4 linked regions of the Homo sapiens genome follow. The protein of the gene in region 2 interacts with the protein of the main gene of each other region in a pairwise test. Each region holds a gene or a part of one and is shown on either strand. Other genes may lie near its edges.

The links. Proteins that work in one complex are often made in the same cells at the same time.
Region 1: the proteins of BIRC3 (region 2) and SNX7 interact in a two-hybrid assay, tested with the Homo sapiens proteins (one large-scale study listed by BioGRID and IntAct).
Region 3: the proteins of BIRC3 (region 2) and UBE2Q2 interact in a two-hybrid assay, tested with the Homo sapiens proteins (one study listed by BioGRID).
Region 4: the proteins of BIRC3 (region 2) and CYFIP2 interact in a two-hybrid assay, tested with the Homo sapiens proteins (one large-scale study listed by BioGRID and IntAct).

Annotation. Positions count from the first base shown.
Region 1 is NC_000001.11:98,692,721-98,696,220, reverse strand, and holds part of SNX7 (sorting nexin-7), read right to left. Parts: intron 704-3,500; coding exon 505-703; intron 1-504. UniProt on the Homo sapiens protein: Involved in the regulation of endocytosis and in several stages of intracellular trafficking. Together with SNX4, involved in autophagosome assembly by regulating trafficking and recycling of phospholipid scramblase ATG9A.
Region 2 is NC_000011.10:102,323,984-102,327,483, reverse strand, and holds part of BIRC3 (baculoviral IAP repeat-containing protein 3), read right to left. Parts: 5' UTR 2,975-3,500; coding exon 2,122-2,974; intron 2,019-2,121; coding exon 1,919-2,018; intron 1-1,918. UniProt on the Homo sapiens protein: Multi-functional protein which regulates not only caspases and apoptosis, but also modulates inflammatory signaling and immunity, mitogenic kinase signaling and cell proliferation, as well as cell invasion and metastasis.
Region 3 is NC_000015.10:75,874,447-75,877,946, forward strand, and holds part of UBE2Q2 (ubiquitin-conjugating enzyme E2 Q2), read left to right. Parts: intron 1-378; coding exon of another isoform or gene 379-387; exon of another isoform or gene 388-462; intron 463-1,740; coding exon 1,741-1,825; intron 1,826-3,500.
Region 4 is NC_000005.10:157,391,623-157,395,122, reverse strand, and holds part of CYFIP2 (cytoplasmic FMR1-interacting protein 2), read right to left. Parts: intron 2,291-3,500; coding exon 2,123-2,290; 3' UTR 1-2,122. UniProt on the Homo sapiens protein: Involved in T-cell adhesion and p53/TP53-dependent induction of apoptosis. Does not bind RNA. As component of the WAVE1 complex, required for BDNF-NTRK2 endocytic trafficking and signaling from early endosomes.

The sequences.
Region 1 (3,500 bases), on a different chromosome or scaffold from region 2:
GAATTAGAAAAAAATTCACCAACAATTCTGATTTATAAACTAAAAAAAAAAAAGAAAATAGGAAAAGAGGCAGATTTTCCAATACGTAAATCTCTCTGCCATACTTCGACAGGTTTAATACAGAGTATCTGTTCCCTCCAGAAAAAAATAATTACCAGAAAATATGAAAACCCTATTTCCTGAAACATCACTTCTTTGATTCTGAGCTCTGTTCCATGTTGAATACAAACAACCACATCCACAATCTTTAACTCGGGCTTACTTTACCACTATTATCTATGAATGGGAAGTAGAGCAGCTAGTGATTGATAAAAGTGAAAATGGAGACTGGCCATAACTACCTTCGAAATCATTTAGGAATCAGAAATGTCCATAAGATGGCTAGGAATAAGCCACACTTTGAAGCTGACATTCTAACTGAATGTTGCTATATTACACCAACAAATGTGAAGATTCATCAGAAACTGAACAACTTTGAAATCACATTTCAGTAATTCTACTTACCCCTTTCTTCCTTATAAATTCTCTGAGATATTTTATCTATCAAATTTATTTTCTGGCTAAATAGTTCAATAAAGTTATTCATTTCCATGAACTCCTCTGGGCGGTTTTTAACTCCTCTCATTGAGGACGCAACAGCTCTGACGGTTTGCCCCATCCTGCTTAGCAAGCCAGGACCTTGCTTCTTGTGAGAAGAGAGTTCCTAGAAACAAAAAACCAAGTATTTCTAGTGAAACAAGTCTCAATATTCCGAGACTCAATACAAAAATAAACCTAATTAGGAGAATAAAATCAAGATAAAATGGTTTCATAGGCATCAATCTTTTTTAATGTTAGCTTGAAGCAGATGAGCTTTATTAAGGTACAGTGTTTCCTCTAAGTGGCAGCCTCAATAATATTCCCTTTCACACTACTCATGTAAAACAGGTATATAGTCTTTCCTCAGACCGTAAATCTTTAAAAGAACAGGGTTTAACCGACAGAATAGTGCTCAATGAGATACTAGAGGAGATAAGGATAATATGACATACCATCTATATTTTATAATAGGAATTTAATGGAAAATGATTGAGAGAAGATTTCTCAGGGCCTAAGTTATACTCCAAAAAATAAAATTGGAAAACTTCATTAATTCTTTAGATGTAATAGTAGCTAACATTTATTTAGAGCTTAATACATTCTGGGCACTATACTGACATTTTAATACACGTAATTCACCATAAACCTATGAGGTAGGTTTTATTATTTTCCTCATTTTACAGAAGAAAATAGAGGCACAGGAAAGTTAACTAACTTGCTCAAGATCCCAGAGCAGGCCGGGTGCAGTGGCTCACGTCCGTAATCCCAGTACTTTGGGAGGCCGAGGAGGGCATACATGAGGTCAGGAGATCGAGACTACCCTGGCTAACACGGTGAAACTCCCTCTCTACTAAAAATACAAAAAAATTAGCCTGGCGTGGTGGCAGGTGCCTGTAGTCCCAGCTACTTGGGAGGCTGAGGCAGGAGAATGGCGTGAACCCAGGAGGCAGAGGTTGCAGTGAGCCGAGATCATGCCACTGCACTCCAGCCTGAGCCACAGAGCGAGACTCCATCTCAAAAAAAAAAAAAAAAAAAAAAAAAAAAATCCCAGAGCAATTAAGTGGTAGAGCAAGAACTGGAATCCTGGAAGTCTGATTCCAGAGGCTTCATTATTAAGCACCAACTTGCTCTGCCCGCTTAAAGTCATTAGGATGGTTTGTAAATAGATACTACCTGAACATAGCACTTCAGCCAAATGAAGTGGGTAAACAGTGACACCACCTTCACCAACTGGCTGTCTACAGAGAAAACTTTTTTTTTTTTTTTTTTTTTGAGACGGAGTCTCGCTCTTTCGCCCAGGCTGGACTGCAGTGGCACAATCCTGGCTCACTGCAAGCTCCGCCTCCCGGGTTCATGCCATTCTCCTGCCTCAGCCTCCTGAGTAGCTGGGATTACAGGTGCCCACCACCGCGCCCGGCTAATTTTTTGTATTTTTAGTAGAGACGGGGTTTCACCGTGTTAGCCAAGATGGTCTCGATCTCCTGACCTTGTGATCCGCCCGCCTCGGCCTCCCAAAGTGCTGGGATTACAGGCGTGAGCCACCGCGCCCAGCTGAGAAAACTTGTAATAAGATACGAAACTAGTTATTTCATACTTAACCTAGGAGGGACGACTATAGACTTGCAAAATAGAAAACATCCTATAAAAGAATATACTGCACAGAAACATATCCCTTGAGAAGTATGGCATAAGTTAAAAGAACAAATACAAACAAAAAAGGACAAGGGATTTTAATAATCATTGTGGCCCTTGTTGAGACACAAGCTTGGGATCGAATAAAATATATGATCAAATAAAATACTGCTGACTACCTAATTTACAGATAAAAATATTATATATTATTTACCCAAATATTAAATAACACATTGTCTATCTTCCTTCAGGTTTTCATTCCTGAATATCTTGCAGAATACATACAAAGTAAACTTGTTTATTTCCAATTCTGTGTGATTTCTTTTGTGCCAATAATAACAGATGCCATCCTTGACCAGGCAATACATCCATCCAAGAGTGCTACAGCCTCATTTGATAGAGTAAACATTATCAGAGACAGCTCACGTCACAACTGGCAAGCTGTTACTGAAACTGTTGACTGTAGAAAATATTTCTAACAGCTTCTAAGGTTCTGAAGTCAGGCCGCATATTCATTTCACATAAGTCACAAAGGGCTTCCATAGAGGACTATCTGTCAAGATTGAAATGAACCACTTTTTAGCTTCTACCACTGGCAACAACTGAGAGATATAAAACTCAACATTTGCCAGTAACTGTTTAATATTGACCCTTTGTCCTGTCTGGTATCTTTCTTGCAGAGTTATAGCTTTATAGAATAAAAGAAAAAACAAGTAGAATGGATAAGGTTTCTGTATTAGAAATTAGACACTCCCCCACTTAGATAATTAAAGGAAAAGTAAGGAGATTATATTATCTATCTGTCCGTCCATCCATCCATCCATCCATCCATCCATCTCCATTCATCCATCTACCCATTTAATAAGGACTTTTATCCTAACTTAAAAAGCCCTGATCCATTATTACTCAAAATAAAGTAGACCCTTGAACAACACAGGTGTGAGCTAAGCAGGTCCACACATGTGGACTTTTTTCAATAAATATACTGGAAAATTTTTTGGAGATTTGTGACAACTAAAAAAACCTCACAAACCACATAGTCCAGAAATGTAGAAAAAACTGAGAGAAAGGTATGTCATGAATCCACAAAATGTATGTGGATACTAGTCTATCATTTACTACCCTAAAATGTGTATAAATCTATTATAAAAAGTTAAAATTTATCAAAACGTATGCACATATTTTGACTTACATGCCACCATATGCAGTTGAGAGAAATGTAAACAAACATAAAGATGCAGTATTAAATCAAAACTGCTTAAAATTAACTACACTACACACTGTACTAT
Region 2 (3,500 bases):
ATTTTTAGTGGAGATGGGGCTTTACCATGTTGCCATACTGGTCTCGAACTCCTGACCTCAAGTGATCCTCCTGCCTCAGCCTCCCAAAGTGCTGCGATTACAGGCATGAGCCACTGCACCCGACCACTTCAGCTAATTTTGAAAAGTTCTAAAGGTTTATCTTAATTTGGGCAGGACTAATCCAGCCATTTGTAGACTGGCTATTTCAAGTGAGTATAAACATACATATAATCAATTTACTCTTAATATATTGTGAAGTATAAATATTTCAAATGAGTATAAATGTACATATAATCAATTTACTATTCATTTAGCATATAGGGAATGGTCAGAGATATTGCAGTGAAAGGCAGGTTGATATAAGCAAGAGGAAGGTGATTACTAGTTATCTACCAAGGCTCAAGTGGACAAGGGTCAGGAGCCCCTCAGTCTACTGAGGTCAAGTAAGACCATCTCTCCTCAGAGCTCTTAGCTACTCTCTTCAACTCTTCTAAGATTCTTAAAACACACTGATGTTGGCCGGGCAAGCACCTCAAAGTCCTGAGGTCAGGAGTTTGAGACCAGCCTGGACAACATGGTGAAACCCTGTCTCTACAAAAATACAAAAATTAGCTGGGCATGCTAGCGTGCACCTGTAATCCCAGCTACTAGCGAGGCTCGAGGCATGAGAATTGCCTGAACCCAAGAGGCGGAGGTTGCAGTGAGCTGACATCACACCATCGCACTCCAATCTGGGCAACAGAGCCAGGCTCCATCTCAAAAGAAAAGAGGAAAAAAAGTAATCAAAATAAGTTAAGATGCCACATTTATTAATCGATATTAACCCATTTCCCATTTAGAAAAAAAACAGTGCAGCTTGTTGCCAGTGCAGTATTCTCAGGGCAAATGGGAAACGGGTTGAATAATAGCAAAAGTTTTGACCATGAAAAAATGTAATTGTAGGCCACATGATTTAGATGAAAAAGGAGAGTGTAAAAAACTTTTTGAAGCTGATATTTTAGTTAGTACATTAAGTTTCTTACCCACGTGATAAAAACCCACACTTGCAAGCTAATCAGGATTAACTAGAACACTAGGTGGCCAGTTAAACAATCAAAAGGGTAACACATCACATTAAAATGCTGCGTGGCGACTAAAACAGATGAGATGAGTCTATACTTACCCTGACCACCCAATTTAATATTGTAACCTGCCTGGCATTTCTAAACTCCTCTTTGTTCTTTTTATTGATTGTACTTATTTTCCAACATGCTATAGAACTTATTCAAGTTTTTATTAGTTGTCTGTTCTCTCGTGCTATAATAAAAACTTAGGAGACCAGGGGTCTTTGTTTTGTTCAACTGATTTTATGCACCCAGAACAATGCCTGCCAATAGGTGATCAATTATTATTGAATACCGAATGAATGGAAATATATCCAAGACAAATGTTGACTGAAAAAACTTCAAAACTAGATATAATATTTAACTTATGTAAAATGGTGTACATTTATTTCTATATGTATATGTATTTATTTCTATATGTATATGTATCATATACATTTATTTCTATATGTCTGGAGGGATGTTCACTAAAGTGGTAACCATGCTCATCCTTAGGCGGTAAGATTTCTGGACATTTTAATTTTCCTTCTCTGTGCTTTTCTACAATGTGTGACTTTGTTTTTATAATGAGCATGTATTATTTAAATATATATATATTTCTTTAAAAATTAAACAAAAATCCCCAAATCTATTTCTTCGTTGTCTTAAGTCCATCGAAACTTTTTAAGTAAGTATTTTACTAAGTAATCCATCCTAAACTTATTCACAAATATATATTTGGAACAGAGTAAAGTAACAACTGATTTCAGGTGAACACATATAAGCAATCTCATGATAATCACAAGAATTTGCAAAGAGAATTTCAAAACAATTACCTTGGAAACCACTTGGCATGTTGAACCCATGGATCATCTCCAGATTCCCAACACCTGAGTCCACCATCACAGCAAAAGCATTTGACATCATCACTGTTACCTAAAATTAATTTTAGACCAAAACTTATGAATACACATAATTTGCCCACTAAAATGTATAAAATGAAATATATTTTTTTTAATTAGCAGATTCAGTTTCTTACCCACATAATAAAAACCCGCACTTGCAAGCTGCTCAGGATTAACTAGAACACTAGAGGGCCAGTTAAAGAATGTTTTAAAGCGGGCTGCATGTGTCTGCATGCTCAGATTAGAAACTGTGTATCTTGAAGTGTCTTGAAGCTGATTTTCTATAAATGGGCATTTGGGAAAATGTCTCAGGTGTTCTGACATAGCATTATCCTTCGGTTCCCAATTGCTCAATTTTCCACCACAGGCAAAGCAAGCCACTCTGTCTCCAGGTCCTATGTAGTAAAAGCCTGCTTTTGCCAGATCTGTTGGCGACAGAAAAGTCAATGGCCATGTCTGAAAAGTAAGTAATCTGGCATTTTCGTTATTCATTGCACAGTGGTAGGAACTTCTCATCAAGGCAGAAAAATCTTGATTTGCTCTGGAGTTTACAGGATTTGATGGAGAGTTTGAATAAGAGCCACGGAAATATCCACTGTTTTCTGTACCCGGAAGTAATGAGTGTGTGGAATTTGTTACTGAAGAAGGAAAAGTAGGCTGAGAGGTAGCTTCCAAGTTGTTAACGGAATTTAGACTCTGAACGAATCTGCAGCTAGGATACAACTTTTTATGCTTTTCAGTAGGACTGTCTCCTCTTTTCCAGTTATCCAGCATCAGGCCACAACAGAAGCATTTGACCTTGTCATTCACACCAGTGTAATAGAAACCAGCACGAGCAAGACTCCTTTCTGAGACAGGAACCCCAGCAGGAAAAGTGGAATACGTAGACATTCGGTACAGTTCACATGACAAGTCGTATTTCAGTTCAAACGTGTTGGCGCTTTTCATCAAATTTGATAAGAATATGCTGTTTTCTACTATGTTCATAATGAAATGAATGGGGAAGAAAAGGGACTAGCCTTTCTCTAGGGAGGTAGTTTTGTGCATGGCTTTGCTTTTATCAGTTTTAATACTAGGCTGAAAAGCCAAAATGAAAAATTTTTTATTATTTTTATTTCTATGCATTTAGAGTTTCAACATGGAGATTCTAAATCCTATACTGATACATTTTAAGGAAGAAATACACAATTGCACCTTTGTATAATCTTTATACATACAATGTAAACATGATGCTACAGAGTAAGCTGTGTTGAAAATTAAAACCCTTCACAGAAGAGTGATGTGTATTAAGCCATCAGGATGCCATTTAATGGCAGGCATCTCCACAGGTAGGTCAACTTCTCCAGGCTACTAGAATGTTTCAGTGGCATTCAATCAACCCAAAGATGTAATGTGTGACTCATGAAGCTTCTTTTCATGGTGGAAAGCTCTGCTGTCAAGTGTTTCACAGCAAAAATATTCAGAATATGTTTATTTTGCTTTTTGGAAATTGTGAAATTTAGTGGCCAGGAAA
Region 3 (3,500 bases), on a different chromosome or scaffold from region 2:
CTAATTTTTGTATTTTTAGTAGAGACAGGGTTTCACCATGTTGGCCAGGCTGGTCTTGAACTCCCGACTTCAAGTGATCCACCTGCCTTGGCCTCCCGAAGTGCTGGGATTACAGGTGTGAGCCACTGTGTCCGGCCACAACTTAATATCTCTTTTACGTGAAGCAGCAGGATGTGAAAAGAACACTGAGTCTGGTGACAAACACACAATTTATGGTTTCACTTTCCTCAGCTCTAAAATATGGCTAGACAGTACATACCTTTTGGATGATTGCTATCAAAAATAAATGAAAATGATGTGTGTATATATATAAAATGCTCAGAGTAGGGAAACATCAAATGATTGTCTGAACACTTACTACTTTTTGCCTTGTGTTAGAGCTATTGACCAACTCCGTGAAATCTGAGTAGCAGTTACTTTGTCTTGGGCACAGGTTCCCCAAAACAGGGAATGAATTGTTAGGTAAGTAGATGCCAAATGTTGAAAACAGGTAGATTACTCTCCCTCCTTCAGTCTAATTTATATATTAATCTAATTTATAATTTTTAGTAGAGCAAAGAAATTTAGTCAAGCCCCCATATCTTGATTACTTAAAAAACAAAGTTTGTCATTTGAATTAATGATGACTGTACTTTATGTCTTGTGATCGATTCCAGTTTGAGTTATAGTCAAAACAACTATAAGTTACTGAACACTTTTGCATGATGGATACTATGCCAAGTACTTTATACTTCACATATCTTCACATTTAGTCTTCATAGCCACCGTGTGAAATAGGTATGCTTCATATTTTAGAGATAGGAAAAACTTCTCATATTTTGTAGATATGAAATGAGCTAGGAAACTTGATTTTTCCCCCCTTCAAAGTATAGTGCAATGTTTAAAATCTTTAATTTCACGTGACCAAAAAATAGTTCCGTTTGTATTTAGTCTTATGATAAGATATTGATGTGTTTTCATCTTTAGAGATGTCCCTGCACTGAAAAACTGAAACCAGTCGCATGTAGGCAGATGTTTCTCAGTGTCTTAATGTGCGAACTAGACCATCTGTGTAATATTCTTGTTTGTAGTCTTATGAATGGAACTCTATTTTAGTAAATAATGTGTCACCTTGAGTGTCTTCTAGTATTTTCAAAAATTGCTGGGGTTTGGAATAGACTCATACTGAATTCTTTGTTATTGTGGAATCCATGGTGGTCTGGACATGTTGGCTAGACTTTTTCACATGAGAAGAAATAGGAAATGAACTAGACTTGTGCCTAGTTTTAATATCCTCTTGAAACTTCATAATGCTTCATTTAATTGGGCTTTTTTTTACTTCTTAAAATGTTGAGGTTGGGCACAGTGGCTCATGCCTGTAATCCCAGCACTTTGGGAGGCCGAGGCAGGCAGACCACGAGGTCAAGAGATTGAGACCATCCTGGCCAACATGGTGAAATCCCGTCTCTACCAAAAAAAAAAATACAAAATTTAGCTGGGCGTGGTGGTGCGCACCTGTAGTCTCAGCTACTTGGGAGGCTGAGGCAGGAGAATCTCTTGAGCAGGGAGGCGGAGGTTGCAGTGAACTGAGATTGCGCCACTGCACTCCAGCCTGGGTAACAGGGCTAGACTCCATCTCCAAAAAAAAAAAAAAAAAATGTTGAGTGGTGATCCATTTTTGCTGTAATCTTTTAGATCAGGTTGAAATATCTTAAATCTTAGCTCAGCAGACCCTGGTAAACAGTGGCTTTTGTGTTTCAGGGTGCAGTGTCTGGGTCAGTGCAAGCTTCAGATAGACTTATGAAAGAGCTCAGGGACATATACAGATCACAGAGTTATAAAACAGGTAAGGATCTCTGGATCCCTGCTCTCTTTATGATTCTTCTGCTCTTTTCTATTGTCAGATTATAAATGTCATTTCTTAAAACTGGACAGAAATGGAAATGTTTACTAGCTTTATTTCAGGAATGTGAAACTCAAATGCAATCAAGTTCCAAAAGATGTAGGAGTAAAATAGGATGAGTTTACTTGTCTTTTGGATTTTTAAAAAATGTTTTTATAGGTCCATTGGAATTTTGTCCTCTTCTTGATAAACAGTGAACTCTTACATGATTTTTATCTTCTGGGGAAAGCATGAGCGATATTGCTTGGAAAGTAAATAAGAGTAAAACATTTCATTTTACAGAGAATAATTGCCAAGTTGATTTTTATGATTCCCCCCCATTTTTGAAAGCAAGATAATCAGCTTTTATTGTAAAGATAGTTATGTTATTACCTTTAAAATATATAAGTTTTTAAAGTTTTCATTTCCTTGTTTGACGAGTATTCTTACTCAATATGACTTGAATGTTATGGAACCTCTCTAACTAGAGGTAAAATTCTCATATTGTTATGGAGATTCTAATAGTATTAAATAATGAGCCAAACTTTAATTTGAAAAGATAGCATTGGTTGGGTGCGGTGGCTCACACTTATAATCCCTGCACTTTGGGAGGCCAAGGTGGTCAGCTCACCTGAGGTCAAGAGTTCAAGACCAGCCTGGCCAACATGGCGAGCGAAGCCCCATCTCTACTAAAAATAAAAAATTAGCCGGGTGTGGTGGCGCACGCCTGGTGATCCGAGCTACTCAGTGGTCTGAGGCAGGAGAATCACCTGAACCCAGGAGGCAGAGGCTGTAGTGAGCCAAGATTGCACCACCGCACTCCAGCCTGGGCAGCAAGAGTGAGACTCTGTCAAAAAAAAAAAAAAAAAAAAAAAAGGGTTATGACCGATTCAATTCTAGCATTATGACCGATTCAGGAATTCTTAGCGTGAGCAAATCAAAATTAATTAGAATTTGCTTAAAGAATAAAAACAAGGAAAAAATCCTTGCTTTGTAGTGTGCAGGATAAGCCAAACTTGTTTCTGAGTTGTTAGAATTGTGGGTGTCCTTACGGTTTTTTGTGTAAGAAGTCTAAAAGTTTATCTGTAGAAACCTAATAAAGTACAAACATTTGAATACTGGTTTTATTTTTAAATGTTAAATAATCATTTGTTTCAGCATTGTTTATATAGAAAAAAAAAAACAGATACTGGGTGGAATTTGTTAAAGCATATCCATAAAATAAACTACCACAGAGTCATTAAAAAGATTGTGAATAGGTTTATGTATACTAACTTGGAAAGATGTCCCTGAAAGTTGAAGAGAGATTATAAAACAACATACGTAGAAGGATTCCATCTTTGTAGAAATGTGTGTTCATGGAAGAAAAGTCTTAAGTACATATGATTTTGCATAATCTTTTTTTCAGTCAGACTAAACGGTAAGCAGTTTTTCAACTCATTAAAGAATCTTCTCAGTTGATGGCTGTAATTATCTGTTAAGGGCATAAGATACTCAGCTGCAGTAGTGTAATATTTACTATATAGCTTAGTTGTTCCATGTTTTAAGAGCAAAATTTCTAGCTTTCGTTGGCTATTTAGTGTATACATTTATACCATAGTAATAGTTATATGATGAAATGAAGAGTAGCTAACATGCT
Region 4 (3,500 bases), on a different chromosome or scaffold from region 2:
CGGCCCAGAGGGTCAAATTTAGGGATATGAATGTGGGGTGAGAGAGGTGGGTTATTGAAATAGAAATCTCATCAAATAGATTATTCAAATCTCCATGAAGTCGTGGTCAAGGATTTGGATGGAACTCTAGCCATCTATCAGCTACAGAGAGCCAGCTACCATCCTCAGACAGGACTAAAGATGTAGAAGGATCTGGAACTTTGACATTTTATATGTTTTGAAAGCATGTTCTGCCATCTGGGATAATGTGTCTCTTTTGCCTCTGGAACACATCTATGGTCATCAAGAAGGAAAAGTCAGAAACCAGAATAGAAGGTGGTACCTCCAGACAGGAGGATCTGCCAGTTACTACTTGGAACCTCCTCCCTTCTCTCTTCCCTGTATGATGTATTTTCTTTCATGGCTTAGTGGTAGCTCAAAGCTCAAGGTGACCAGAATGATTCCCTTACAGCAGTGGTTCCCAAACATTGATGTGCAACAGAACAACTTGGGTAGTTTGTAGAAAGGGCAGATTTCCTGGCCCTATTCCCAGAGATTCAGAATTAGTAGGTTTGAGGTGGGGCCCAGGAATCTGCACTCAAATGTGCTACTCTCAGGATCTGACCTAAGGGGCCTTTCATATGTGGCCCCCTTTCCTCACCGGAGGACATAAGTGCATCACACAAACCTCTTGCTGTGGGCACTTCCTTTGGGGTTAAAAATGGGACCATTTGATTAAGGCAACCATTGCTAACCATCTTACTTCCCTGGGCTGGAGAAATATCAAATGTCACATTTTATGTTCTTAAAATCTCAGGGCCACAGATTTCCTTTGACAATGACATGCTCTGTAACATGAAATTTATATCCTAAAGCCTTTTGTCCTTCCTTCTTACCACACTCGGTGGGAGATTCTGCAGAAGACTTTTGGTTCAGTCTAGAAAATGGAAGTAAATGTTACCCCTGGGAGAGAAGCCACACCCGAAAGTCTAACTTAAGGAATGTAAAGAGAACAGCAAGTTGAGAGTAAAAGCTAAAATGTTCCAAGAATCTTTCAGCTTCTAGGACAATGAAGGTTCTGATTCCCTAAAAGAGGACTCTTCTTTGGGGGCAGGGGGTGTATCTTGGTATTAAAAGCTCATTGACAATTACTATTCCTCCTCCTCACCTCTGTGTTTCCAAGACGTTTTGGGCTTCTGTGGAAATAACCCCTTAATATTTTCTTTCTTGTGGAAATGTTCCTTGATAAGCAATTCTGTGCCAAGACGTTGTCCCTAATTTGGTCACTGGCTAATGCTATAGGCAGTGCTATGACTGATTTGTTCAAAGCTGCTTCCCCTATGTGGCCCAATGCTAAGCCTTTCCTGAAGGAATAAGGGAACCATCTCACCATCAAGCAGCTGAGATGGCCTGAAAGCATCCTGTTTGGACTATGACATTTCTGGCTGTGTTCATACATACTGCTTCCCCACAGCAGGCCTGATCAGTCTCCTACCCCACCTGCATAGAGTGTGATACAGCTGTGAATGCTTTTTGGACCTCTCTCTAGGGCTTCCCTGAGAGAGGGGAGTTAGAATGGGGCTTTGGGAAGCCTATGTGGTAGAATCCCTGGTACCCAGAGTGGGAGAAGATGACACCCGGGGCACTGCAGGGAGGGAACCAGGAGAGATGAAGTAGTAAGCTGAGGCATGCCCTTCTGGCCAGGCTGGCGTCTCTGGGCATGGCCACATCTGTTCACAGTCTGAGACTTGAGTCCTGGGGTCACACAAGGGCACTGGGTAGGAGATGTCTATCTTGGGAGGAGGTCTTGGGAAGCAACCACAGATAGGTGGGATGATGGGATGGAGAAAGGGTGAAACTAGGAGTTCTTAATATAGTTGAGGGGGGAGAAAAGAAAAAGCACACACTGCCCTGTTTACTTTTTTTTTTTTTTTTTCATTTATGCTATGGAGAAACCAGCATGGAGATGTCATGGGAGAGCATGCACAGGCCCCGCCCTAGGGAGTGGTGATGTGTTTGGGGAGGTGCTTGTTTCCAGGTCCATCCCACACGTTGTCCAGTTGGATCCTATGGCAGGCTGGCTGTGGCTTTCTCTCTCCTGCTTCTCTTCCTCCTCCAGATAAGGGTCTGCAGGATCTTCTGCTTAGCAAGTGGTGGCCAAGGACTGGTGGATGGGTGGCTGGAAGCAGCGCACATGCTCCACAGTGGAACTGTCTGTCTCCACGGACTTCATGTATTTGTTCAGGATGGCAAAAACCTCATTGTTCAAGATCTGATACTTCCTGATCCGGTCGGCCATCTTCTTCAGGGGCTACAGAAGGAAGGGGATGTTCAAGTTAGGGCAGGACAAAGTGGGGGTGGAAAGAGGGAGTAACAGGAGAAGTCACTGAGGTCCAGGGTCCCCTGCATCAGTGATCATGTCACTTTCTTAAAGTCCTTTTATGGAATCCCCTGGATCTGGCAATCAAGTGTTAACTGGACCGTAAAAACCCTCTCCAAGTTTTAAAACGATCTACAGAGCTACAATAATCAACAACACTGTGGCACTGGTAAAAAGGTAGATGTACAGATGAATAAAACAGAATAGAGAGCCCAGAAATACACTATTACACATATGATCAAATGATTTTCAACAAGGGTGCCAAGACTGTTCAATGGGGGAAACAGCCTTTTCAACAAAAGGTGCTGGGAAATATGGATACCCACACAAAAAATAACAATGGACGCTTACCTTATACCATATACAAAAAATTAACTCAGAATGGATTAGAGACGTAACCATGAGATTAAACTGAAATTCTTAAAAGAGAATATAGGGGAAAAATTTTCATGATGTTGGATTTGGCAATAATATCTTGGGGTATGACATCAAAAGCAAAGGCAAAAAGTTGCACTACATCAAAATTGAAAACTTTCATGCATCAAAGGGACACCATGAGAATGAAAAGGCAACCGAAAAATAGAAAATAATCACAAATTATATCTGATAAGTAATATCTAGAATATGTAAAGAACTTCAACTCAACAAAAATGACTCAATTAAAAAAATGGACAAAGGACTTGAATAGACATTTTTCTAAAGAAGATATACAAATGGCCAATAACACATGAATATAGCACTCAGCAGTGACAGTCATTAGGGAAATTCAAATCAAAATCACAACAAGATAACTTTTTCACCCCTCAGGATGACTATTATTAAAGAATAAGTGCTGATGAGGATGTGGAGAAATTGGAACTCTTGTGTACTGCTGGTGGGAATGTAAAATTGTGCAGCCACTATGGAAAACAGAATGGCAGTTTCTAAAAAGTTAAACATAGAATTACCATACGATCCAGCAATTCCACGTCCAGGTATATACTCAAAAGAATGGAAAGCAGAAATTTGTAGAGTTATTTGTACACCCATGTTTCATGGTAGCCAAAATTAACCATTTTCAAAAATACCCAAAAGGTGACAGCAACCTGAGTGGACAAACACAACGTGGTCTATATACACAATGCAATATTATACAGCCATA